7 linked regions of the Homo sapiens genome follow. The protein of the gene in region 5 purifies or fractionates together with the protein of the main gene of each other region. This does not show direct contact. Each region holds a gene or a part of one and is shown on either strand. Other genes may lie near its edges.

Region 1 (3,500 bases), on a different chromosome or scaffold from region 5:
GAGACAGAATGCATATGTGAACTAGAGAAATATACTCTGCTCCAAGATATCTGTGGTTTGCAGACATTGCTAAGTGATTCCTATGTCAAAATTTTAATATAGTCTCATAACAGCACTTTATCTGGCTGAAACTGACTGCCTTTTTCTTCAAATACATGTTTGCTTAGCTATATATTTTGCTACATAAATTAGATATTAATTTGCAAAGCACTTGAGATCTAATTAATTATAGTAAATTTATTTCTGCTTTATCTCAACAACAGCTCCAAACAATACCCTATAGAGACCTTGGAAGAAGAATTAGAAAACAAATAGAAGAAAAGCTATTGTTTCATGAATAGTCCCTGTTTGCCTCATACCTGCACATTTCAGAGTGAAGACCTGCACATTCAAGCTCTGGTAAATTACTTCTACTGCCACCTCTTGCAAATGTACCTCAGAGAGGCCACACATTTTGAGGAAGCAAACATTCTGGACTGCTATGCAGATAGGCCCATCATGTGAAAAACTGGCTAGATACTAATGCCTGCCATTGGTTAAAAGCAGCAGGTATATTTCACAAACTTTGAATTCCTTTGCTTCTTGGTGGAGCTTCATGTATCTAGACTTTTCACTATGAAAGTTCTGAAACATACACAGAGGTAAAATGGAAAATCCAATGAACCCAGGTGGAGCTTTAGATTTTTTTTCTTTTTTAAAGACAGAATCTTGCTCTGTCACCCAGGCTGGAGTACAATGGCACAGTCTAGGCTCACTGCAACCTCTGCTTCCTGGTTCAGGCGATTCTCTTGCCTCAGCCTCCCGAGTAGCTGGGACTACAGGCGCGTGCCACCACACCAGGCTAATTTTTGTATTTTTAGTAGAGATGGGGTTTCACCATGTTGGCCAGGCTGGTCTCGATCTCCTGACCTTGTGATCCGCCTGCCTCGGGCTACCAAAGTGCTGGGATTACAGGCGTGAGCCACCACGGCCAGTCGCAAACTTATCTTCATTTAAATGAAACTCATATCCCATCAGCACGTAAACTGTTTTAAGGATGGGAAAATAGGATTCTAAATCGCAAAGGATGAGCAAACTGGTGCTACTGCCACCCGAGGTTGGTGAGCACTACTTCAGCCCACAGCTGTCTCTTTTTAGGCCTAAGAAAAAGTATTAGGAACTAAGTAATTTAAGAAGGACTTTTAATGACTGAAGCCCAACAGATTTAAGTTCTTTTGTCTCCAGGTTAAACTACCCATCCTCTTACCTTTAATTTTCTGCTTGTATTCTTCTGGTCGGTGGAGGTACATGGCTGCAGCGTCACCATTGAGAGGATCTATGGGGTTAGGATAGGCCAATAACTGAGGCAGGAAGGACTCAAATATATTGGTAAGATCTGAAAAACCAAACAAACATGTCACACATGGGAAATGCAAGTTCACCTAAAATTCACTTGCATTCAGTAGTCAAGCTGCTTACCTTCTTAGATATTCACACGGGGATGATTCTCCATACGAGTGTGCTCTATTACATGTGACTTGTATTACACATTCATTTCAATACCAATTTAAACATTTTAATTTTAATTTGAAGAACGAGATAAAGATATACCTGACATTCACTTTGAAGGACAATTTTCCCAATTCTATTTCACTCTATTTATATGGCTATTTCACACAGCCATTTTCTACAGCTTACAAAACCCCCCACTCTGAAAGGTATTCAGATGCTGGGTCTTAAAAGAATTGAAGACAGTTTTTGTGGGGTTTTTTTGTTTGTTTTTTTTTTTGAGACAGAGTCTTGCTCTATTGCCCAGGCTGGAGTGCAGTGGTGCAATCCTGACTCACTGAAACCTCTGCCTCCATGTTCAAGCGATTCTCCTGCCTCAGCCTCCCAAGTAGCTGGCACTACAGGCACCTGCCACCATGCCTGGCTAATTTTTGTATTTTTAGTAGAGACGGGGTTTCACCATGTTGGTCAGGATGGTCTCAAACTCCTAACCTCAAGTGACCTGCCAGCCTTGGCCTTCCAAAGTGCTGGGATTACAGGTGTGAACCACTGCGCTCAGCCTTGAACACAATTTTATAGGACTTGACATTTAATTCAATTCTTGCAACTTCTAATGGAGGTAAATATAACCAATTTTTCAATTATTCTGGGTAATGAGGATAGGAATCTATATGGACCACATAAGACTACAAATATTCATAAGACAGATAAGCACCAATCTACTGCATTTATTTATTTAAAAAAGTTTTTTTTTTGAGAGAGGATCTCACTCTGTTGCCCAAGTTGGAGTGCATAGGTGTGATCATACCTCACTGCAACTTCAAACTCTTGGGCTCAAGCCAACCTCCCAGCCTCAGTCTTCCAAGTAAATTGGACTATAGGCATGTGCCACCATACCCAGCTAATTTTTTTTTTTTTAAATAGAGACAGGGTCTCCTTATGCTGCCCAGGCTGGTCTTGAACTCCTGGACTCAAGAGATCCTTCCATCTTGGCCTCCCCAAGTGCTGGGATTATAGACGTGACATTTATTAACTCCTTTCTTGCCAGGCATACACAGATGATATCTACACACAGTTAGCAAACAACAAACACCTGCAGTTACCCAGCGTTTTAGAAAAGCAGGCCCTGAGAACCTGGGTATAACACAACCCACACACCCCATAGCTCAGATATGCTGTAACTTCCACACTCTGCTCCTCAGTGAACTGCAGCACCCCTGAGAAATGGAAGGACATGAGAATGCTTCCATGTCTCTGCCCCACTCCAGCTGCTTTGTCATGTTTTATATAAAACATTCCTGTTTCTGGAGACAATGCTGAAGTATACTAAGTAGCATAAAAAACTACTCATTAATTTAGTCAGCTCTTTCAACCAATTTTGCTTTTAACAATGGGCGCTCCTTTGCAGTATTACAGATGAATGCTTTGCCAAGCCACATTGCTTGAGATTTGTGGTTCTCAGCCAAGGGTGATTTTGCTCCCCATGGAATTTGGCAATGTCTAGAGACATTTTTGGTTGTCATATCTAAGCGGTGCTACTGGCATCCGGTGGGTGAAGGCCAGGGAAGCTGCTAAACACCACAATGCACAGGACAGCCCCACAACAAAGGATTATCTAGACCAAAATGTCAGCAGTGCTGAGGTTAAGAAACCCTGATCTAGATAAAAGCGGTAGGCAAACCTTTTTGTAAAGGGTCAAATACTTTTAGGCTTTGCAGGCCACATATGGTCTCTGTCATAACTACTCAAAACTCAGCTCTGCCACTGTAACACAAAAGCAGCCAAAGTATAGGTCAACAAATCGATGTGGCTGTATTCCTATAAAACTACATATACAAAAACAAGTACCCAAGGTCTGCCCAACTTTGCTCTAGAAAATCTTACCTATAAGAGGTGGCTCTTATCACTGTAAGGTTAAGAAGCTGAGCAGTTAGAGACTAATCTAGAGCTGTGTTACTCAACCGAACTTTCTGCAGTGATAAAAATGTTTTATATGTGCTCACCTAAACCAA
Region 2 (3,500 bases), on a different chromosome or scaffold from region 5:
ATAAGGTGTTGAATGGCTTCTGGGGAAATAAAAGGTGTAGGTTAGTGCTCCATACATGGGAGTGTCAGGAATATCAGATACTTTCTTTTTATTTTTAAAATTTTATATATTAAAAAACACGTTTGTTTTTTTTTTCTTTAAAATATTGAGATGGGGCTCACCATGTTGACCAGGCTGGTTTTGAAGTTCTGGCCTCAAGCAGTCCTCCCACCTGGGCCTTCCAAAGTGCTGGGATTACAGGCATGAGCCATCACACCTGGCCACTTTGTTTTTATTTTACTAAAATAGAATTGCACCACACTCAGTGTTTTAGAACTTGCTTTTTCCTCCCAGATTATCCATGTATCTTTTGAGTAAAACTTTTCTGTGTTTTGTACAGAGATCTGCTTATCTTTTTTTTTTTTTTTTTTTTTTTTTTTGAGACGGAGTCTCACTCTGTTGCCCAAGCTGGTGTGCAGTGGCGTGACCTGGACTCACTGCAACCTCTGCCTCCCAGGTTCAAGCAGTTCTCGTGCCCTCAGCCTCCTGAGTAGCTGGAATTACAGGTGCGCGCCACCATGCTCGGCAAATTTTTTTTGTATTTTTTGTAGAGACAGGGTTTTGCCTTGTTGGCCAGGCTGGTCTCAAACTCCTGGTCTCAAGTGATCGGCCTGCCTCGGCCTCCCACAGTGCTGGGATTACAGGTGTGAGCCACCGCGCCCGGCCTGCTCATCCATTTTTCATAGCCACATAAAATCAGAGCAGTTGTGTGTCATTGTCCTTCCTGGTTATTTAGCGAAGGCTGCATGGTTGTGAGTCAAGTCCTTGTCCAGAGCTGGGTCTCCACTGCCCTCCAGGCTCCATCCACCCGCCTGGTTTCCCGGGTCGCTGTGGCCCGCGCTGGCGCTGCTGTTGATCTGCTGTGTGTGCTGTTCCCGAAGAGGCTCCGGGAGCCTGAGCTAGTGAGCCTCCTCCTCCCTACCCGCAGGTCACCCTCGGAGTCCAGCTCAGAGTCCCGCTCCCGCTCCCGCTCCCCGACCCCGGGCCGCGAGGAGAAGATCACGTTCATCACCAGTTTTGGGGGCAGCGATGAGGAGGCAGCCGCAGCCGCTGCTGCCGCAGCAGCATCAGGAGTCACCACAGGGAAGCCCCCCGCACCTCCCCAGCCTGGCGGCCCCGCCCCGGGACGTAATGCCAGCGCCCGGTCGGTAACGCTCACGCCGCCCGCCCTACGCCCCGGTCACCATGGGGGGTACCCGGGGCAGAGGGGGGCCGCGGCTCAGGCCTGCGCTGACCGGCCCTCCGTGCCCCGCCTGCAGCCGCCGCTCCTCCTCCTCCTCCTCCTCCTCTTCTGCCTCGAGGACCTCCAGCTCCCGCTCCAGCTCTCGCTCCAGCTCCCGCTCTCGCCGTGGTGGGGGCTACTACCGTTCCGGCCGCCACGCCCGCTCCCGGTCCCGCTCCTGGTCCCGCTCCCGCTCCCGCTCCCGGCGCTATTCCCGGTCCCGTAGCCGTGGCCGGCGGCACTCAGGTGGGGGCTCCCGAGACGGACACCGGTACTCCCGCTCGCCCGCCCGGCGTGGTGGTTACGGGCCCCGGCGCAGAAGCAGGTGTGTGTGGCTGGGCGTGGAGGTGGGAGGGGCTGGGGGGGCGCGGTCTCCGATCCTGGGGAGAAGGTGCTCAGAGGGAGGAAACCTGGCCGTCCAGCTCAGAGAACACCCCATCTAAGGGGACAGGCACAGGCCACTGCTCTTCCGCAGGAAGCCCTTGGTTGGAAAGGGCAAGGCATGGGTGTTTGCGTGCGCGTTCTGGTGGCAGTGGAGGTGGATCCCAGCCGCTGTTTTCCACGACAGGGTGTGGAGAGGAGACTGTGCATCTCTCTCTCCTCAGGAGACTGTTTTTGCTGTCAGGGGTTCCAGGTGGAGGGGAGTAGAAAGCGCATGGACGCTCCAGGGTTTTCTGTAGCTTGAAGGGACGGGTCCGGGCCTTGAGGGCTGGGAAACCCCTTGCGGAGGGGGAGGGGCGCGTTCCTGTGTGGCCAGGAGCGGATGGGGAAGCGAAGCGGGTGGAAAAAATCAAGACAGCTCTTTGGCCTGGCGTGGTGGCTCACACCTGTAATCCCAGCACTTTGGGAGGCCGAGGCAGGCGGATCTCCTGAGCTCAGGAGTTCGAGACCACCCTGGGCAACATGGTGAAACCCCGTCTCTACTGAAAAAAAAATTAGCTGGGTGTGGTGGCACACGCCTGTAGTCCCAGCTACTTGAGAGGCTGAGGCAGGAGAATCGCTTGAAACCGGGAAGCAGAGGTTGCAATGAGCTGAAATCGTGCCACCGCACTCTAGCCTGGTGACAGAGTGAGATTCCGTCTCAAAAAAAAAAAAAAAAAAAAAAATTAGCTGGGCGTGGTGGCACGCGCATGTAGTCCCAGCTATGCAGGAGGCTGAGGCACGAGAATCGTTTCAGCCCCGCAGGCGGAGGTTGCAGTGAGCCGAGATTGTGCCACTGCACCCCAGCTTGGGCTACAGAGTGAGACTGCGTCTCAAGAAAAAAAAAAAAAAAAGACATTTCATTTTGGAGACGACATGGTGAGAGGCTAGCTCTAGGGATGGTTTAGAAAATAAAGTCACCTGGGGACTGGTCCACCCCCTTCCGGTCCCCTTGCCTGTTGGGGTCAGGGCTGCCCTGGGAAGGGCAGCGACGCTGGGTTGGTAGGAGCATAGACTGCAGGGCACCTGCCTGAGTGTAGAGTCCCTGGGCCTCTAATTCTGTAAAATCGCGGTAATAGCATCCGCTTCTCTGAGCTGTTAGAGGTGTAACAGGTAAACCCATGTAAGGTGCTTAGGACAGGGCTGGTGCTGGCTAAGTGCCGTTAATATCGTCAGCATCATTACCTGCGTTATTGTAGCACTGATCGCCATGTCAGCTGCCTTCAGGGTCTGGCAGGTAAAGTAGAGGGGCCAGGTAGAGATCCTGCTGACCTGGCAAGCACATGTTCCCTCCAGTCGGGGCGTTGACCGCTCAGCAGCAGGTCTAGTGTCACCCAGTCTTTCTAGTTCTCAGGAGAAGTTGAGGGTCTGGATTTTTAGAGGATAGCTCTTGTTTCCTTTACTTTTTTTTTTGAGACAGAGTCTCACTGTGTCACTCAGGCTGGAGTGCAGTGGCACAATCTCGGCTCACTGCACCTCCTCCTCCTGGGTTCAAGTGATTCTCCCGCCGCAGCCTCCCAAGTAGCTGGGATTACAGGCATGCGCCACCACACCTGGCTAATTTTTGTATTTCTAGTAGAGACGGGGTTTCACTGTGTTGGCCAGGCTGGTCTTGAACTCCTGACCTCATGATCCACCCACCTTTGCCTCCCAAAGTGCTGGGATTACAGGCGTGAGCCACCGCGCCTGGCCCTTGTTTTCTTAATAATGACAACAAATTTTTATTTTATAAAAACGCAATTCAAAAATTAGCCGGGTGTGGTTGTGCACATCTGTAATCCCAGCTATTCAGGAGGCTGAGGCAGGAGAATTGCTTGAA
Region 3 (3,500 bases), on a different chromosome or scaffold from region 5:
TTAAGACCATGGTGAAACCCCGTCTCTACTAAAAATACAAAAAAAAAAATTAGTCGGGTGTGGGGGCGGGTGCCTGCAGTCCCAGCTACTTGGGATGCTGAGGCAGGAGAACGGCGTGAACCTGGAAGGCAGAGCTTGCAGTGAGCAGAGATCGCGCCACTGCACTCCAGCCTGGGCGACAGAGCGAGACTCCATCTCAAAAAACAACAACAACAAGAACAACAACAACAAAGTCAAATAACTGAGTTGCAATTTTAAAATTAGTATGTACAAGCAAAACAGCCTCTTTATCTACCTACTGTGAATTATATGCTATTTATTGAATTATAATGTTATTTTTGATACTGTAAAACTGCAGTGATAGGATTTCTGGATGATTACTCCTCTGGAAGAACTTGTAGTAAGTCATCAAAGAGATCTGGAGAAATGAACAGGGCTGTTCAGAAAGTTCTGGTCATCACTGTTTTGCAATAAAAGCAGAAACTGGAGGCGCCTCAGACATGAAACAAGAAATTAGTCAGCAATGCAAAATATAAAGAGATGAGGAATCTCTAGTTCCTTGGAAAGAGCTGATGTGATGCAGACAAACTTCTGAAAAAGGTGATATCTTCTATTATAAGAACATGGCCACAATGAATGTCTTAGGCCAGATGTTAGTAACACGTGTAGACAGTGAGCGCTTTAGCTAAGGGTGGAGCTGATACTGATAACAGGCTAATAAATACATTTCAGGATTCGAAAAACAAGTCAGGGTAAATATTAGATTTCCAAGAGTCCAAAGCCAGAAGGCTTCACAGAAAGGAAAAGGCAGTTGCTAGACAATGCAGGATATATTAAAGTGCAGAATGTTTAAGGGTTATAGAGGAAATAGTTCTTCATCCTAGAAAACAAATTCCTGGGTAGGATTTGTGGGACCAAAGTAAGGAAGCCAGAGATCGAAGAAAAGCCTGTGGCTAAAAGGTAACCTTAGGTGTGAATAAGAAGCAGGAATGAAGAGAATACAGACCTGGAAACAATGCCAAACCTAAATCTGACTCATGTTAGACCTGTAAGTAAGTTACCTAGCATTTCTCTAGAATTTCCGCATCCAGGTTTTAATATGGAGAAAACGGAATGAGGGGCATACTCTATAAGCCAAAGGCTGGCTAAAATCACCTTTGTTAAAGAATCAATATTCTGAATATGCATTTAAAAATGTATTTTCTTAGTTTGAGCTCTTTTTGAAAAAATTAAGGACGGTAAGAATTTCTGTACACACAGTCATGATATAGAAGGAAATTCAGACAATTTATGACTATGGTAGGTGGATAATGAGTCCTAACACCTTAGAAATATCTGAAGAAAGTGATGGAGACATAAGAGGGAAAGTCAGACAGGATTTTATAAACCAATTATTTCTTTGAGACATGGTTTCACTCTGTTGTCTGCCACCTTGACTGCTAGGGCCCAAGCAATCTTCCCACCTCAGCCTCCCGAGTAGCTGGGACTACAGGCATGTGCCATCACAGTCAGCTAATGTTTTCTATTTTTTTGTACAGATAGGACTCACTATGTTGCTCAGGCCAATCTCCTGGGAGATCCTCCCACCTCAGCCTCCCATAGTGCTAGGATTACAGGTGTGAGACACCACACCTGGACAAACCAATTCTTCCTTCCTATTTGGAATTTTGCCAATAGCATATAAACAGGAGGATGCTGGAATATAAACCAAAGATCTTGATAAATTATAACACTGAAAAACTCTTCCTTCAGTTAGTCATTCATAAAATGAATTGGTCAACAGAACCACTCAGGGACTTTTTAAAAAATGTAGAGCCCCAGGACTCCCATTCCTTGAGATTCTTTGGGTAGGGGCCAGGAATCCATATTCTTAAACATAGTAATATTAAAACAAATAAAAAATCTCCCTCAGGTGCCAGTAGCGTTTAGAAAAATGTTAGTAGGAAACTTAATCAAAAATTGTTATTCAAGAGAGAACCCCAAAACATTCAAAGCCAACAAATAAGCTGCCATTGCAATGGCATACTGGCATATGGCAGACTGAGATTCTATACCTGGAAGAATCTGATTTCTGGACAAACACTAGGGTTAATGCTGATTCAACTAAGCACTGATAGAATTCCAAATGGCCACTCCATTCAGGACCTTAACTAAATTTTGTACAACATCTATAATGGGATTCTTATCTAAGCCAAGATCAGAGGTAGAAAAGTTTATGGCATAAAGGACACTGAAGAGCATTTACGGCAATTATGAGCAGTACTCTACAATTTACCACATTCATATTTTCCAATTTATTTTTCACCTTTTTTTTTTTTTAACGTCTGGGGTTTTTTTTTTCCTCCATCAATCATTAGCCATGGGCAGGGTCTTACTGATGACATAAAGCACTGAAAAGATTGGCTACCCTTACTCTAAATCTTTGCTTTTGAAATCTATTTCAGAAATCATTTCTCATTTTCATTTCGAATTATATTAAGAACTGACAGCCTCTCTTTTTAAAGAGAGGTCCTTATCAAATCATGGTCCTATTAAGAATTTTCAATGGTTCCCCCATTACCTATAGAACTAAAAAAAAAACCCTCATACTTACTGGCCTGGCATTTAAAGCCCTCTGTGTATCACCCTCATCTACCTTTTAAATTGTTTTGCTGACTATTCTTGAATGTGAAATACTCTACTCTGGCTAGATTAGTCTACTACCTCTCCTTTAAAAATACCATTTTCATTCCTATCTCTCTGACTTTGTTCCTTCCTAAAAATATCTTCTTGTATCCTCTCTGCCAAACCATTTCTAAGGCTCAGCTCAAATCCTGTATCTCCTTATGAGGCTTTCTCTAATCACTGTAGTCCTCAGAGCTCTTCCACTCTTTTGGTTCCCTATGTCTGTATCATTGTCACATACTATCTTCTGTTGTTCGATTTATGTGTAATTGTTCTCTCTTCCTAACAGACTTTATGCTGTGCTAACTCCCAATATACTCTCACAGAGATATGTATGCAGTAGGAATTCAATAAATTTTTTTTTGTTTTATGTGAGAAGAAATACCGACAATTTTAGAAGAGCTTTCTCTTTCCTCTCGGCTTTAAAATCAAGGGGGAAAGGGCGCAGGGAGCAAAGTGGATCAGCTGAGGGTCTACTACTCTCGTATTTCAGGAGAAAAGAGGTCCCTAAGGAACTTAATAATTCCAAAGTATTGGCCAGTATTTTCTTACTAAAAGATTTCTAGAAATGTCTTTCTGGGTCTAAGACTAGGATCAAGAAAAACAGGGACTGAGTAAAACAGGACCTTAAAACTAGACTCAAAGGCTCTCTATTTTCTCTAGCCTTTTGGAAAATTTCTTTCCCACCATTAAATGTCTCCTAAAAAATCTATTTCCATGAAGAGTCTATCGCTGCTCAGCCTTTTAACTAAAATCAAGTGTAGTCCATGAAGGAATTCTGTATTAATCAGAAGAGCTGGAAACCTCCATACATCCTAAAAACACTGATTATGGTG
Region 4 (3,500 bases), on a different chromosome or scaffold from region 5:
ATGAAAAGATGCCCACAGAGAGACTTGCACATGAATGTTCGTAATATCATTACTCATAGCCAAAAACAGAAGCAATCCATATCTAGATCAGCCAGTGAATAAACAGACAAAATGTTGCCTGTTCATACAATGGAATACTACTCAGCAATAAAAAAGGACTGACCTAATACATGCAACAACTTGGATGAATCTCAAAAGCCTATGTATGATAAGTAAAATAAGCAAGACACCTAAGACTACATATTCTATAATTCTGTTTTTATGAAGTTTCTTTAAAAAGCAAAACTATAGAGATAGATCAGTGGTTTCCTGGGGCTGGGGAGTGTTCTTTTGCAAATGGGCACAAGGAAATTTTTTGGAGTGATGAAAATATATCAGAACTGATGATGATTATACAGTTGTATAAATTTATTAAAAATTATCAAACTGTACGTTTTAATTGGATGACTTGTGATTTGTCAATTAGAACCGAGTAAAGCTGTTAAAAATAATTTTAAAGGGAGAGAAAGAGAAATTAAAATTAGTGTTTAAGTAACTTGTACAAGGTCATGTAGCAGCACGGTGAAGAGCTAGTATTAGAGCTCTTCCTAAAGCCCCACTGTTTGTGTTTCCCATTGTAACTGTAGTGTGTCCCTGAGCAGATTACCTGCTAAAGGGCCTATGCTTCATGCTAGATCAAAATTCCCCTTAATCATCAATGCTAAAACCTTTTTTTACTTTTAATCTTACTTAGAGATTCCTTATTAGCAAGTTTGCTGGATGGAGTAAGAGCCTCTGGTAATAGAGATGTTTGTGTAAAAATGACACCAACCCATAAAGGTCAGCGATGGGGGTTACTCAGCATGCCTGTTGATGAGGAAGTAGAGAGCCTTCACCTCAGGTTCTTAGCTACGCCTCCAAGTAAGTATTGATTTAAATGTAATTACATTTCCACTCATCTACTTAATTTAAGAATTAGGAATTCGTATCTTCTTTTTGAACCTCTTAATCTCTTTACAGATGGCAACTTTGCAGATGCTGTATTCAGGTTCAATGCTAATATTTCATACAGTGGAGTCCTACATGCAGTAACACAAGATGTAAGCTAAGTTTTATCATAATTGTTCATTGTTACTAACTTTTGGTATGGAAACTTTTTTGAAATACTCTTTCTTCACCTAGGGTCTCTTCTCAGAAAACAAAGAAAAACTGATCAATAATGCCATAACAGCATTACTGTCCCAAGAAGGGGATGTCGTTGCTTCAAATGCGGAACTTGAGAGTCAGTTCCAGGCTGTGAGGAGGCTTGTGGCATCCAAAGCTGGTTTCCTGGCTTTCACTCAGCTTCCAAAGTAAGTTGTCTTCTGAAACTTAACTTCTCTTAGAGAATTTGAACTACTCAAAATGGCAAATAATGAACGATTCACCTCCTTTTCCTTGACTAAACCAGATACCTTTTATAGGGTGATATGGTACTTTATTCATGAGAAATGAAAAAGGAAGGTGAGGGCAGCAGAAGCGGAATATTGGTCCCATACTCACCAGTAATATAACTGACTCTTGAATTTGAATGGGAAATTACATGCCTTTTAGTTTTAGTTAACCCTAAAAAATATTTTCCCTCTCAAAGAAAAAACTATTATGAAGACTGATAAATTTCAGAGGTGGAATTTAAAATACGTCATTGTTCCAGTAGTGCAATGGAAAGTTAATATGATCTATTTCAATAATATAACAATTTAAAATGTTCTGGTATTGCTAGTATATGCTTGTTTTTTGTTCCAAAAGGTTTCGCGAGCGTCTAGGGGTGAAGGTAGTAAAAGCACTCAAAAGAAGCAACAACGGAATAATCCATGCAGCAGTTGATATGCTTTGTGCCCTTATGTGTGTAAGTAGTAGTTTTCTTAAGGAAACTGGTTTTTCTTAAGTTGACTGGTGGTTTTGATTTCCACAGTCCCAGATTTTCATTGTACCAATAAGTTCTTGTTTCTGTTTCATAAATTGTTCTCATAGTTACTCAAACCTTTGTTTAGCATATCCTAAATACCAGGCAATGTGCTGTGTGCCAGAAATTCAAAGATCTTAAGACAGAAGTTCTTTTCTTCCTCACTTTGTTGACAGTCTGGTAAGGTAGGCATATCTGTACAAGGTAAGGTAGTAGGGGCCATAGGATCTTGAAAAGCAGCACTTTATTTTTGTTTGGTGATGAGGGGAAGATGAAAGATTCTCACCCAGTCTTTCTGGAAGATGTTACATTTGATCTGAATCTTGAAGGACAGGCAGGAATTTTCTAGCTCTGGAAAGGCCTTCCTGGGTGGGGAATAGCATATAAAAAGGCATGTTTGGAAAGCAACAAATAATTAAATATGGTTGGGTTATAAGGTATGGATGGGGGGTAATTAGGAGTTGCAGCTAGAGATGTATGCAGACAGTAATAAAAAACCTTCTGTATCAGGAGGGAGGAGCTAGATTTTTATCTTTTTGTAAGGAACACCTGAAGGATTTTTTTTAGCAAGAGAGCAGTAATGTGATCAGGTTTGAGTTTTTAAAAACCCACACTGGTAGTATGTGGAGAATAGAAGTAAAATTAGAGGCAGGTAGACCAAATTGTCACGTAAGAAATGAGTTGCTGAGCTAGGGTAGTCACAGGGCTAAAGAAGCAGCACACCTGAAAGCTGTTTGCGCAGTAAAGATCTAACTTAGTGGCAGCTTGTACAGAGGGAGAAACAATTGTTTAGTACAGTTTTGAAGTTTCTGATTATCTCAGTTTTGTGTGTAGTACCTGGGACTTTTCCTTATATAAAGTGTTTTAGGCAAGCTTAGTCGTACATAAACATAAGTAAATACTTCTGTAAAACCTTGCATTCCCAAAAGCAAATTAATTTTATTTACTGTTCCAAACAAGTAGTGAGATAACTAGAACTTAACAATGATATGGAGAGTTGCTTTATTCGAACAAAAGATGTTCCTATTACCCAGGAAATTCTAATGGTAGAGAGCTTTGTGTCAGGCTCCCCTATCAGGAAATTGCAAAGTTCTTAGGAGCTCTGTGTCAGGAACCAGGGTAAAAGACTGTTGCAACAAAAGATTCTGCTAGTGCCCCTGTCTGCAAGGGTTTTAGGTGCTCTATGTCAGGAGCCAAGGATGGAGACCAATGTATATATTTTTTAATATTTCATGTATTCTCCCTGCTCAGAATTCTTTCCCTGCTTATTCATTAAGAGCTCAAGTCAGCTTTTAAATGAAGCTTACCAAATATACACACCTACTATGTACCCACAACAATTAAAATAAAATTTTAAAAATAAATGGAGCTTTCTTATTCCTGAAGGTGGTAGTGATGTATCCCTCCCTGAAGTGAGATTACCCTTCATAAATATTACACTTGTCTTTCTTAGCAATTTCTTCTTTGAATTATTGCTATTTCTAAACATGATGTATTTTTCTCAATCTGTCAGCTTCCTGAGGATAATATTCATGTTTAATTTTAATTTTTATCCTTAACAGGCCTTGTCAAGCTG
Region 5 (3,500 bases):
GTTATCTGAGAAAGAAAGCTTTTAAATTTTTCACGTAAATATTTGTTGGATTAATGGACGTGATTTATATATTGAACTCATCTGTGTGCTCTTTACTTCCCTTACAGGAACTAAGTTTAAAAATAAAGATTGGGGTGGGGCATGAATTTACCAAAAGAAGAACCTCCATTCAGGGAAGGAAGAAGACACGTGGTCCCAGGACTACAAGAGAAGGAGGTGGGTTGGACATGAGTCAAGAACAAAAGCAAAGATGTGTTTCCAAAGGACAAAGGGTAAGATCAAGTTCCAGTGAATGAAAGGGACAGCTTTGGACACAATTTTGAAAAACCTGAACTTTCTCTTCGTTAACTATTTTTGCATGTTGACTTTCCTTGTTGCTAGCAATAAAAACCATGTCAAAGATTTATGCTTCCAGTAGGATAGAAGGCAGGTACGCTGAAGGATTCTCAGTTACAAAAACAAAACAAGCAAACAACAAAAGAATGAGCTGCTTGATAGAGCTATTTGTTTTTTTTAATCACATTGCTGGGTTCACAGACAGTAGAGGCAATCTCCAAGACACCTTTCTTCCCCCAAAGTGAGTTTAATCCACAGGGAGTGTGGGGACCATTAAGCAAGCCTGAAAGGAGGGACTCCGAGGACAAATGCCAGTTTCAACACTTACTTGGGCCAAACGAAAGCTGGGAGCTCAACAAAGGCTTCAACGTTAACCTGAGATCCTTGAAGGAAGCCTTTGAAAGTGGCCCCAACACCTGGTGGAAGTAAATGTAAATGATCTCCGGAGGAGAGCAACCCCTGCCAGGCCTCCAGGCTTCCCACAGATGAAGATCAATCAAACATGAGCTCACAGAGACAGCAACGACTAATTAATATTTTCAAGACTTTAGTTACTAAGATGATCAGATATAGAATTTTTTAAGCTGTGAGAAATTATACAGAAATAGAAGATGAACAAAAGATGATTATATTTGAAAAAATAATGATTCAGAATTTTCCACAATTAATGCACGTTATAAATCTGTAGATACAGTTGGGCACAGCAGCTCATATATGTAATCCCAGCAATTTGGGAGGCTGAGGCAGGAGGACTGCTTGAGCCCAGGACTTTGAGACCAGCCTAGGCAACAGAATTCGTCTCTAACAAATAAAAAAATAACAAAAGTTAGCTGGGCGTGGTGGTGTGCACCTGTAGTCCCAGCTACTTAGGAGGCTGATGAAGGAAGATCACTTGTATCCAGGATTTCAAGGCTGCAGTGAGCTGTGATTGTACCACTGCACTCCAGCCTGGGTGACAGAGTGGATCCATGTCTGTTAAACAAAAAACAAACAACAACAACAAAAAAAAAACAAAAAAAAGCAGAATACTCAAAGCAATATATAAGTAAGAATACTCAAAGCATACCTAGATACGCTGTAGTTAAACTAAAGAAGGCCAAATGCAAAGAGAAGAAAGGAATGGTGGCCAGAGAGAAAAGGCAAACACAACAGAGGAATGATAGTGACAGCTGACAGCTAGCTTCTCAAACCCACTGAACAAAAACAGGAATCTAACGTCATATAGCTTCTCCAGTTCACTTTACTCAAGCATCTTATGATACTAAGTCATTCCCAGAGTATATCTATGAAAAATTAAAGTTTATGTATCCTTATGCTATCAGTGGAATATCAAAGTTTGAAAAATAACAGAAAAAGAAAATCATAATGGAAATCCAAGTCTTGTGATAATAAACACAATGCGAATGAAGCTGGATGCCAACTCAATCAGCACTTCGATATCTTGTGGAACAAGAGAAAGCGAAACCCAACGTGGAGGTGGGATCAGACACTGATTATTTAAATGCGCGTGATGTGTTCAGCAGATCCTCCAAAGCTTTGATGCCTCCTCAGGCTGCTTAAATCAGTATCACTTAAGAGAGTCTTCTCAGACAGGAAACAGGAAACCAGAAACTTTCTGCATCCTTTTGCTTTATGGTACCTGCTCTGGAACATGTTTTGTGGAGAAAATATGAAAACTTCAGCCAACATGGAATGAGTAAACTGAGAATTTTCCTTATTGATTTTCCTTCCCCACCCATCCTCGCGTCAGCACAACCTTTAAGAGTCCACTCTGTGCTGGGCACAGCTCGGACACCAGTCTTTGTCCTCTTGGGGCTTATGGTCCAGAGGGGCAGACACATTAACTGAAGAACTGCCCCAAGTGTTGAACTCTAACAATGACAGAGTCAGGAGGGAGAAGCACAATGGGCTACGAGCAAGTATGGAAAAGGCCCAGGCCAGATGGGGGAGGCATGTGAGGCTTCCCTGGGCAGCAATGGCTCGTGGAGAAAGGAGAGGGCAGGTGGACAGGGCTTCCAGGAAGAAGGCGAGTCCTAGAGAGGAGGGGACACTGTTAATGGGAAAACAGTGCAGAAATAGACAAGGTGCGTGGCATGAAAGGGATGAACAACAGGCCCAGGAGCACCGGGAAGCGGCTGCTGTAGAATTGCACCAGACAGAGGAGAGCAGCTCAGCAGAGGGCGGAGGCGGCAGCAGAAACGAAAGAAGCAGAGAGACTCCGGCATGCTGAAGTGCTGAAATCTATGGGGCTTGATGATGACAGACTAGAAATGTAGGGAAAGATGGAGGGAATGCTGCATGCATGCGGGGGAAGCTGGTGGGTCCAACGACTGGCACAATGCATCTTAAGAGAAGAGTTCAGTTTTGAGCTTGTTAAACTTCATGCGCTCTTGGGACATCTAAGTGTCAATGTCAGGTAGGCCGTGGACAGGTGGGTCTGAAGTTCCCAGGGGCAGCAGGGGCAAGAGATAAAAATGTGTGTATCTGTGCATCAGACATTAGCTCCCCAGAGGAGTGGATGAGGTAACCTGGAGAGGGGCCGGTGTGATGGGGAGGAAGGCGGAGAAGCAGTCTTCAAGAACGGGAATGTTTCCAAGCCTGGAGAAGAGGATGAGAAAGGGGAAAACTGCCATCGAGGCAGGAAGTGAAAAAGCACAGGGCCACCCAATGGGAGTGAAGGGAAAAGGGGGTTCAAACATGCTATGGGATGATCATGATGCTTTTGAGAAGGCAGGGACTGGGAAATGTCAGCCAGATTGAACGGCACAGGAGGTCCTTGGCAACCTTGGCAGAGTTGTTTCGGTGGAGTGTAGCAATGGAACCCAGACTAAGTTGAGTTAAGGAAATGCTGGCACTGCACAGGGCTGATTTCTAAGGAGCCTGGCAGGGAAGGACAGGAGCGAGATGAAGAGGGATGAGGGACAGAGGGAGGACCTGACAGAGAAGGGACATTCCGTAGCACTTCTCGAGAAAGTGGGAGGGGATGGGATTCAGGCATGCAGGAAGGAGAGGCTCTGAGGAGGGAAGCGACTTTCCTGTTCACAGGAGGGAAAAGAGATAGGTGTCATGGGGAGGGAGCAGAACTGATGGAGGGAAGATGGGGCTCCCGACCACTGGCTCCTATTTTCTCTGGGGATTAGGGCCATGGCCACCTGCTAAGAGTG
Region 6 (3,229 bases), on a different chromosome or scaffold from region 5:
ATTCCCTGAAGCTCCTGCTACCCTTTGCTAATCCTTTTAGACTCTGTAAAACTTACCAATGACATTAACGTGCTTTGCATCTGATTTCTTATGGTACATTCTGATTCTTCTTATGGTATTTTTTTTTAGAAGGTAGAGGAGAAAAATACCCAAATACAGCATCAGGTCCACTTCATCTCGGATGTTAAACAGTTGTTGCTACATACTCTTTATACAGAGACCAGCTATGAAAGACGGCACTTTCCTCTCGGATTTGCAAGTGCCTGTAGCCTCAGAGGCCACATAACTTTTCATATTCTTCCCAACAGGTTTCTATGTTCACCCGTTATTTGACTAAACCAGAAAAAAAGGCGAGGGAGAGAGATTTTTCCCACTGAACTCTTAATACCTTCAGATGCCCAGAACACCTCATGGTGGGTATCTATCTGAAATGCCTCTGTCTCAAAGGAGACATTTTGCAAAGAGTTATTAATTATTGCAACAAGGAGAACAACTAGGTCACCTTAGTAGTATTTATAAACACAAAGGGACATGTCAATTATCTGTGCTGTGGGAAGTCAACAGGAGCAAACTCAAGAAAGAAGGCAGAAGACTTAAAATAAAAGAAAATATAATTTTAATACTTCTGTCTTCTATTTTTAAGGACAAGTTTTTAAATGCACATGCCCTACTAGGTGCCAATAAGGACCTGACTGATATGTGTGCGAATGCCCTAAGATGGGAGTGCCAATGGGGTGGGCAGATAGTGGTCAAGTCTAGATATTAATTTCATTATACAGAAAAATAAATACAAGATTCAAAAACTGAAACCCATTTTGCCTGGCAATTAAAATATTATTCTAAAAGGAAGGCAGAGTTTCCTAAGATTAAAAGTCACCAAGTAAAATAAAGTTGTCTAATAAAATTCATCATTCTATATTCCTACTGAGGGAAAGAAGAAATTCTTTTCTCTGTGATGTTATTTTCCTAAGTGACTTCTTTTAATTAAAAAAAGGGGGGAAGAGGAGGGAATTTTCCATGAGTTTGAATCCTACAAATGCCACAAACAGCTTCTGAAGCTGAAGCTATGACAATGAACTTCCATGTCACAAAGAGGATGAGGAAGTGGAAGGGAACAGTGCAGAGGAAACACAGTGACATTGTATTACAGTAGGTATTTACGCCTGCTATCCTCATCCAAGGTAAGGTCAACAACTTCTGCTGGTGAAGCCCAAGTCTGCTGGGGAGTCACAGCAGTCCATGACTGTGTTTGCCTGGTGCTAACATACTGCGTGCCCGAGCCATGCTTCCATGAAGAAACACTCTGAATCACACCACCTCGAGGATGAACACACCTGCAATTGAGATGAAGAACAAAAGCATGGTTAATTCCACCACAGGAAAAACAGAAGACAATATGACCTCAGTTGTACTTATCAACATTTTTACTAAGATAAACCTAGTATGCAAGTTCATAAAACCCACAATCAATATCCTTCCCTCCATCTCTGTCTCCCTCTCTCCCTACCCCACCACACCCCACTTGGTCCCTCTCTCAGTTTAGCCTTAAAAAGGCCAAGGGTCTTATCTCAGCCAGAAACTCCTGAGTTGTGTCACTGACCATGGGTGACAGGATGTTTCTCTGGACTCATTTACACCTCTGGGATCTTCATGATAGGGCAACACATAAATCCAGAACAAAGTTAAGATGCCCAAACAATCTTAGTCTGAACAAATCAAACAGTAAGAAAAATAGTTAAAACTTGTTCTTAAAATAAGCTTTATAATTGGTAATAATGCCTTCAAAGACAGTGACAGTAATACCCTTTCACAGATTAAATTTCTAAAAGTCTGTAAGTAATAGATCATGAATAAAGGATCAATTTCCCTTGTCCTGAAGGTCACAACAGAAGCACTTGGTTCATTCAACAGAATCGCTTATAATTTGGTTCCGTGAAAGTAACACAGCTGAATCTTCAGTTTAGATCCACTAAAAGGGTTCTATCGGAGGGAGAGAACTGCCTTGTTAGCAAGTCACACCAAGAGTTCACTGAAATAAAATTGTTTCAGAAACACTGACAGTTTGAATTCCACAGTCCAGTCAAATGATAGAATTGTGAACCTCCAGGCCAAAACACTAAGTTCTGACTCAAATGAGAGGAAGGCAGGCAACTCATGTGATCAATGCTATGTCCTCTCATCTAAACTTCCTGACCAGCCCTCAGGTAGCTTATGTGAGAAGTAACAAGTGGCATGAGTCTAGTCACTAAACTACCACAGTGGCTCCTGAGCAGCTGTTTGACAATCTGTAAGCAACAAATAATGCTGGGCCACTTGAGAATTTCAGCTTTGGTTTAATGCTACCTACACCACCAGATTCAAAAGAACATTAGGGTAACAATGGACACGATTCAGTTGCAAAACTGCCCCAAGGACCCTTAAACTCCTGCAAACATGCCCTACTCCTACAAAGGCTTAATCTGATAACTTCTCCCTTACTAAGAAAAATTCCTAAGAACAGATCTCTCAGGGCCAGAGCAGAGGGCAGAACGCAAATTTGCTACAGTACCAGAAGCCCGTCATCTGTCCAGAGATGGGCTATGTAGTTACTAACCCAGAGGCTACTACCTTTTCAAAGATTAGCTAGAGAAATAAATAGGGACATTAAAATAAGGGACATAAAGCCCAATGTCTAATTCACATCTGTTCAACCCATTATATAAATTCATATTAAGTGACCATGTAGTCATGGAAAAATGTCAGCCAAAGGAGTCCATTCAACATTTATAGAAATGGTTTTGATGACTGAAGGCCAACGGAACACTACCTTTACTAAGCAGTTTCACATATATTATCTCATTGGACAATTCTGACAGACCTATGAGGTAAGCATGGAATTTACTATCCTCACTCTACAGAGAGGGAAACTGAGGCTTAAACAGGTTACATGATTTGCTCAGAGTCACAATGCTTGAAAGTGATAGGCCAAGGAAGACAGGTCTGATTTTGGGTCCAATGCTTTCCATATCATGTTGTTGCTTTACAGATGTGTGTATTAAATCGGGTGCAGCAAAACACAACAAGAATCATCAGAGTACAAAAATAGACCCAAACTAACAATTTAGAAGTATAAAGTTACTTGACAATTCAAAAGCTCACCTGTATAAGCACTAATTGAAGTAAAGCTGGCTAGAAACCTGGTAAGAATTCAGGCAACGAGTGGCAAAGAGAGTCAATGTAATCTTTGGCA
Region 7 (3,500 bases), on a different chromosome or scaffold from region 5:
GAAACATTCCCACCCACTGGGCCCTCATCTGGCACCAGATCAGCCACAGCTCCCTAAAAATAGCTCCGTATGGAGAGTCTGCTTGACAGCTGCAGACCCCAGGGCCACCTGAGGGTAGAGAAGCCCCTGCCGCTACACCCCATTCTCCGATCCCACCCCAGAGACCTCCTTCAGCCTGACCAGCCCAGCTTCACACAGCACAGCAGCCCTCCATCGAAGGTCAACACTTCGGGACTGTTCCACAGGCCCCCACAGCATCTGCCACCACCGCCAGGCCCCCACTTAGGCTCTCGGCCCCCCAACAGTGGGCATCCCCCAGAGCTCCCTGTCACCCACCAGCCCTGGACCCAGCCGGGGGTGTGGAGGACTCAAACCTGCTGTCTGTGTGGGGTTCAAGAAGCCTCAGCCCCACAAGGCTAGAGGACACCCCCTGCGCCCACAGCCCCAAACTCTTCCCTATCCCAGCTGCTTCAGAGACAGACAAGTCCCCAGTACAGGTCCCAGAAGATGGGGTTTGGCAGCTCCCTGTTAGAACACCAGCCCCACAGCCAGCAGGACCTAGAGGGGCAGCAGCTAGACGGGAAGGATGGAGACTTGGTCCAGGACGACCACCGAAGGATGCCCAGATGGCTTCCTGAGCACCTGGACCCCAGCAGCTCTCAGAGGAGAGTGGGACGGTGGTCACACCCAGGCCTGCTCCCTGTCTCCAAATCTCCCTGTACAAAGGCCATAGGATGGGTGCTGAGCACAGCCTAAGCTCCCCTGGGCCAGGAGGAGGGCTTTCAGGGCAGGGAGAGCCAAGAGGCCTATGTCTCCCCACCAGACCCCTCCTCTCCGTGGGGCCCCAGAACTACCACATCCAGGGCCCTGTTTCCAGGCCCAGTCCACACCGGTGGGGTAAAGGTCCCTGCCTGTGGCTCACCCCTGGAGAGCCAAACCAGGAAGCCCGGTGGGGACCACAGTGGGACACTCAGGGTGTGGCTCCCGCAGCAGGACGGCTCCGCAGGCCTCCCAGGGCTTGTGGAGGATGGAGCAGGTGCAGCAGGAAAGACGAAAGCCTGCCTGCCTTCTCCTCCACACAAACCGCAGGTCCCCAGGGCCCATCCTCTGTCTGGACGGGCCTCTACACCGCCACCCACCTGGCGGAAGCAGCAGAGCCAGATGGGCAAGGCGGGGGTCATGCTCAACACAGAGCCCCTCATGGACCCCCCACCCCGGCCCCCAAGAAGCTGCAGCCCCACATCCAGCATGCCTGGTCCTCCTGGGAACAGATGAGCAACTCTGGCAGCCCAATGGCACACACTCCACGGGTCCCCTACAGGCGGGGAGACCATCTGCCCTCCAGGGTTACAGGGGCAGAGCCAAGGAAGTCGGCAGTGGGCAGGCTGCTGCTAAGTGGGAGATGGTGGGGCGGTGAGGGGCCGATTCTGACTCACAAAACCTCAGCTTCCTGCTCCCCTCCCCCTCCCACCGACACCCTGCAGAGGACAGGCGGCAGACGGGTGGGGGCCCAGGTGTCTGCGGGTGCCACACCTACCTCCACACCCCCAAGGACAGCTCACTCAGGCGCAGGCCCTGAGCTGCGGCTCCTCCCCCACCCCGCCCACTCCCCCAAAGGCCTCCTTGTGTTTGGCCCCAAACCACCATCTGGGCCCAGCCCTGGCTGGCACCCAGGGCTCACCCAGTTCTTGCCACGAGGCAGCAGGTGGAGGAAGGAAGAGGGGTTTATGAACAGGGACAGCAGTCTCTGCACTGCAGCCTCCCCAAGGCCAGGAAGGGAAGGCAGCCTTCCCCAGGAGGATGGGCAGAGTGGCAGGTCACCATCTACCTTGACCCTCTCCACCCCCCGCTAGTCTTGTGAAGCATCAACTCTCACTCAGCCTTAAGTCCTCTGCAGGGCTCTACCCTCCAAAGAGCCAGCCCTGAGCTCCACTCTCCTTGGGCTGGCCCAATGGCCCAAGTGGGCCAGGCCAAGCAGGCACCTCTCCCTGAGCTCCTCTGTGCCATGACAGCCCCAGACTGGCCCTTCAGGTCTCAGCCCACAGAGCACCCCCTCCCCTGGGAAACTCTGCCCCAGCCTGGGGCCTACAGGGACCCTAGGACCGACCTCCCTCCACCACACCCCAGTGACTGCTAGTGCACCTGTTGGCTTGGCTGGGACGGACCACAGGCTAATTAGGGCTTGTAGAACACGTACAGTCGGCTACACAACCATCCTCCCCACACCCAACAAGCAAACAGGTTCCTCAGTCGGAAGTACAGGGCACCTTCCGGAGCCCCAGGGAATGACAGAACACAGCTGGCCCCTGGAAAGGCAGGCCATGGAGGGCCCTGCAGCCCTCAGCTGTGAGCAGCTCTCCTCCTCACCCTTCTGAGGTCCCAGCCTGCACCTCAGCTCTGTGCTGTCCGGGGCCAGGCCACATCTTGGCCTCCAGGGGGATGTGGGGGGTTTTGCCACATCTTCCCAGGGTCCCCCACCCACTGAAGCTCTATTGCCATAGGAGTGACCTCCAGCAGCTGAGCTCCTTGCCCATCAGAGTGCTGCCTTTACCTCAGAATACACAGGAGGGAGGGTGCCCTCCCCACTCCTCCCCTTGGCAACAGGACGAATCCAAACGGTGTGCTGGGTGGCACTGGGCACCAAGGTTTCCTTGCCACCTCCACCTCTGAACATGGGGCTGAGGGGGCCACCTAAGGACAACACTGGGGCTTCTGTCCTGAAAGCCCCTCAAAGAGCACTCCCTCCTGCACCAATGTCCCTGCGGCCAGCCCCACGCAGACGGCAGGCCTGAAAGGCGGGCGGGCGGGCAGGCGAACACAGACCTCGCGTTCTGTCATCTGCTGGCAGCACCCCATCATCAGTGCCAGGCTCTGACGCCTGGAGGGCTGGCCCAGGCCAGCGTGTGCTGTGGGGAGGCAAAGAAGGATGGCAGCCTCTCCTGTTTCCCCACCACACTCCCCACAGTGCACGAAGACCAGCCCTGGCCGGCTCTGCTGCTTGTGGGGAACCCAGCTATAGGAAAAGAGAAAAGAAGGAAGGACAGCACCTTCCTGCTACGCCACCCACCCAACCCCAACGTGCACATGGCTCCCTCGGCCGCAGCAGCAGGCCATGCGCAGGGCCCCTGCAGCTTCCACAGCCATCCCCCCCAACCTCCCCTGCCCATCAGACCTGAGCAGTTCTGACCCAAGGCCTTGGACCCCTTCCGGCTCCCAGGGTGGAGGCTGGGAGGCAGTTGAGGCCATCCCAAACAGCCCCAACCCGCTCCAGAGGGAGGGCAGGAACGTGGGTGGGGACAGTAGATGGGGCTCAAGAATGCAGCCAGCACATCACAGTCAGGAGGAGAGGCGAGGCCATAGGGTGAAAGGTCTTTTTCTCAGATCCAAGGGGTCCAGCCCCTCCTCCCAGGCAGATGCACACTCAGCTGCTGGAGATGGAAGGCCGATGGCCAGGTCAGGGCCAGATCAAATGTGTCTCCTGTTCTCAAAGACACCTCAGC

The links.
Region 1: the proteins of PIP4K2A (region 5) and UBE2H purify together in Homo sapiens (affinity purification with mass spectrometry; 3 studies listed by BioGRID and IntAct, with this or other methods). This does not show direct contact.
Region 2: the proteins of PIP4K2A (region 5) and CLASRP purify together in Homo sapiens (co-immunoprecipitation; 3 studies listed by BioGRID and IntAct, with this or other methods). This does not show direct contact.
Region 3: the proteins of PIP4K2A (region 5) and ACIN1 purify together in Homo sapiens (co-immunoprecipitation; 3 studies listed by BioGRID and IntAct, with this or other methods). This does not show direct contact.
Region 4: the proteins of PIP4K2A (region 5) and DNAJC13 purify together in Homo sapiens (co-immunoprecipitation; 3 studies listed by BioGRID and IntAct, with this or other methods). This does not show direct contact.
Region 6: the proteins of PIP4K2A (region 5) and ARK2N purify together in Homo sapiens (co-immunoprecipitation; 3 studies listed by BioGRID and IntAct, with this or other methods). This does not show direct contact.
Region 7: the proteins of PIP4K2A (region 5) and SBF1 purify together in Homo sapiens (co-immunoprecipitation; 3 studies listed by BioGRID and IntAct, with this or other methods). This does not show direct contact.

Annotation. Positions count from the first base shown.
Region 1 is NC_000007.14:129,837,961-129,841,460, forward strand, and holds part of UBE2H (ubiquitin-conjugating enzyme E2 H), read right to left. Parts: intron 1,376-3,500; coding exon 1,247-1,375; intron 1-1,246. UniProt on the Homo sapiens protein: Accepts ubiquitin from the E1 complex and catalyzes its covalent attachment to other proteins. E2 ubiquitin conjugating enzyme that transfers ubiquitin to MAEA, a core component of the CTLH E3 ubiquitin-protein ligase complex.
Region 2 is NC_000019.10:45,063,045-45,066,544, forward strand, and holds part of CLASRP (CLK4-associating serine/arginine rich protein), read left to right. Parts: intron 1-967; coding exon 968-1,183; intron 1,184-1,298; coding exon 1,299-1,586; intron 1,587-3,500. UniProt on the Homo sapiens protein: Probably functions as an alternative splicing regulator. May regulate the mRNA splicing of genes such as CLK1. May act by regulating members of the CLK kinase family.
Region 3 is NC_000014.9:23,085,137-23,088,636, forward strand, and holds part of ACIN1 (apoptotic chromatin condensation inducer in the nucleus), read right to left. Parts: intron 1-3,500.
Region 4 is NC_000003.12:132,455,502-132,459,001, forward strand, and holds part of DNAJC13 (dnaJ homolog subfamily C member 13), read left to right. Parts: intron 1-733; coding exon 734-900; intron 901-999; coding exon 1,000-1,079; intron 1,080-1,161; coding exon 1,162-1,331; intron 1,332-1,767; coding exon 1,768-1,867; intron 1,868-3,500.
Region 5 is NC_000010.11:22,610,079-22,613,578, forward strand, and holds part of PIP4K2A (phosphatidylinositol 5-phosphate 4-kinase type-2 alpha), read right to left. Parts: intron 1-3,500. UniProt on the Homo sapiens protein: Catalyzes the phosphorylation of phosphatidylinositol 5-phosphate (PtdIns5P) on the fourth hydroxyl of the myo-inositol ring, to form phosphatidylinositol 4,5-bisphosphate (PtdIns(4,5)P2). Has both ATP- and GTP-dependent kinase activities.
Region 6 is NC_000018.10:46,261,034-46,264,262, reverse strand, and holds part of ARK2N (protein ARK2N), read right to left. Parts: intron 1,335-3,229; coding exon 1,145-1,334; 3' UTR 1-1,144. UniProt on the Homo sapiens protein: AMPK substrate important for exercise capacity and skeletal muscle function.
Region 7 is NC_000022.11:50,468,536-50,472,035, forward strand, and holds part of SBF1 (myotubularin-related protein 5), read right to left. Parts: intron 1-3,500. UniProt on the Homo sapiens protein: Acts as an adapter for the phosphatase MTMR2 to regulate MTMR2 catalytic activity and subcellular location. Promotes the exchange of GDP to GTP, converting inactive GDP-bound Rab proteins into their active GTP-bound form.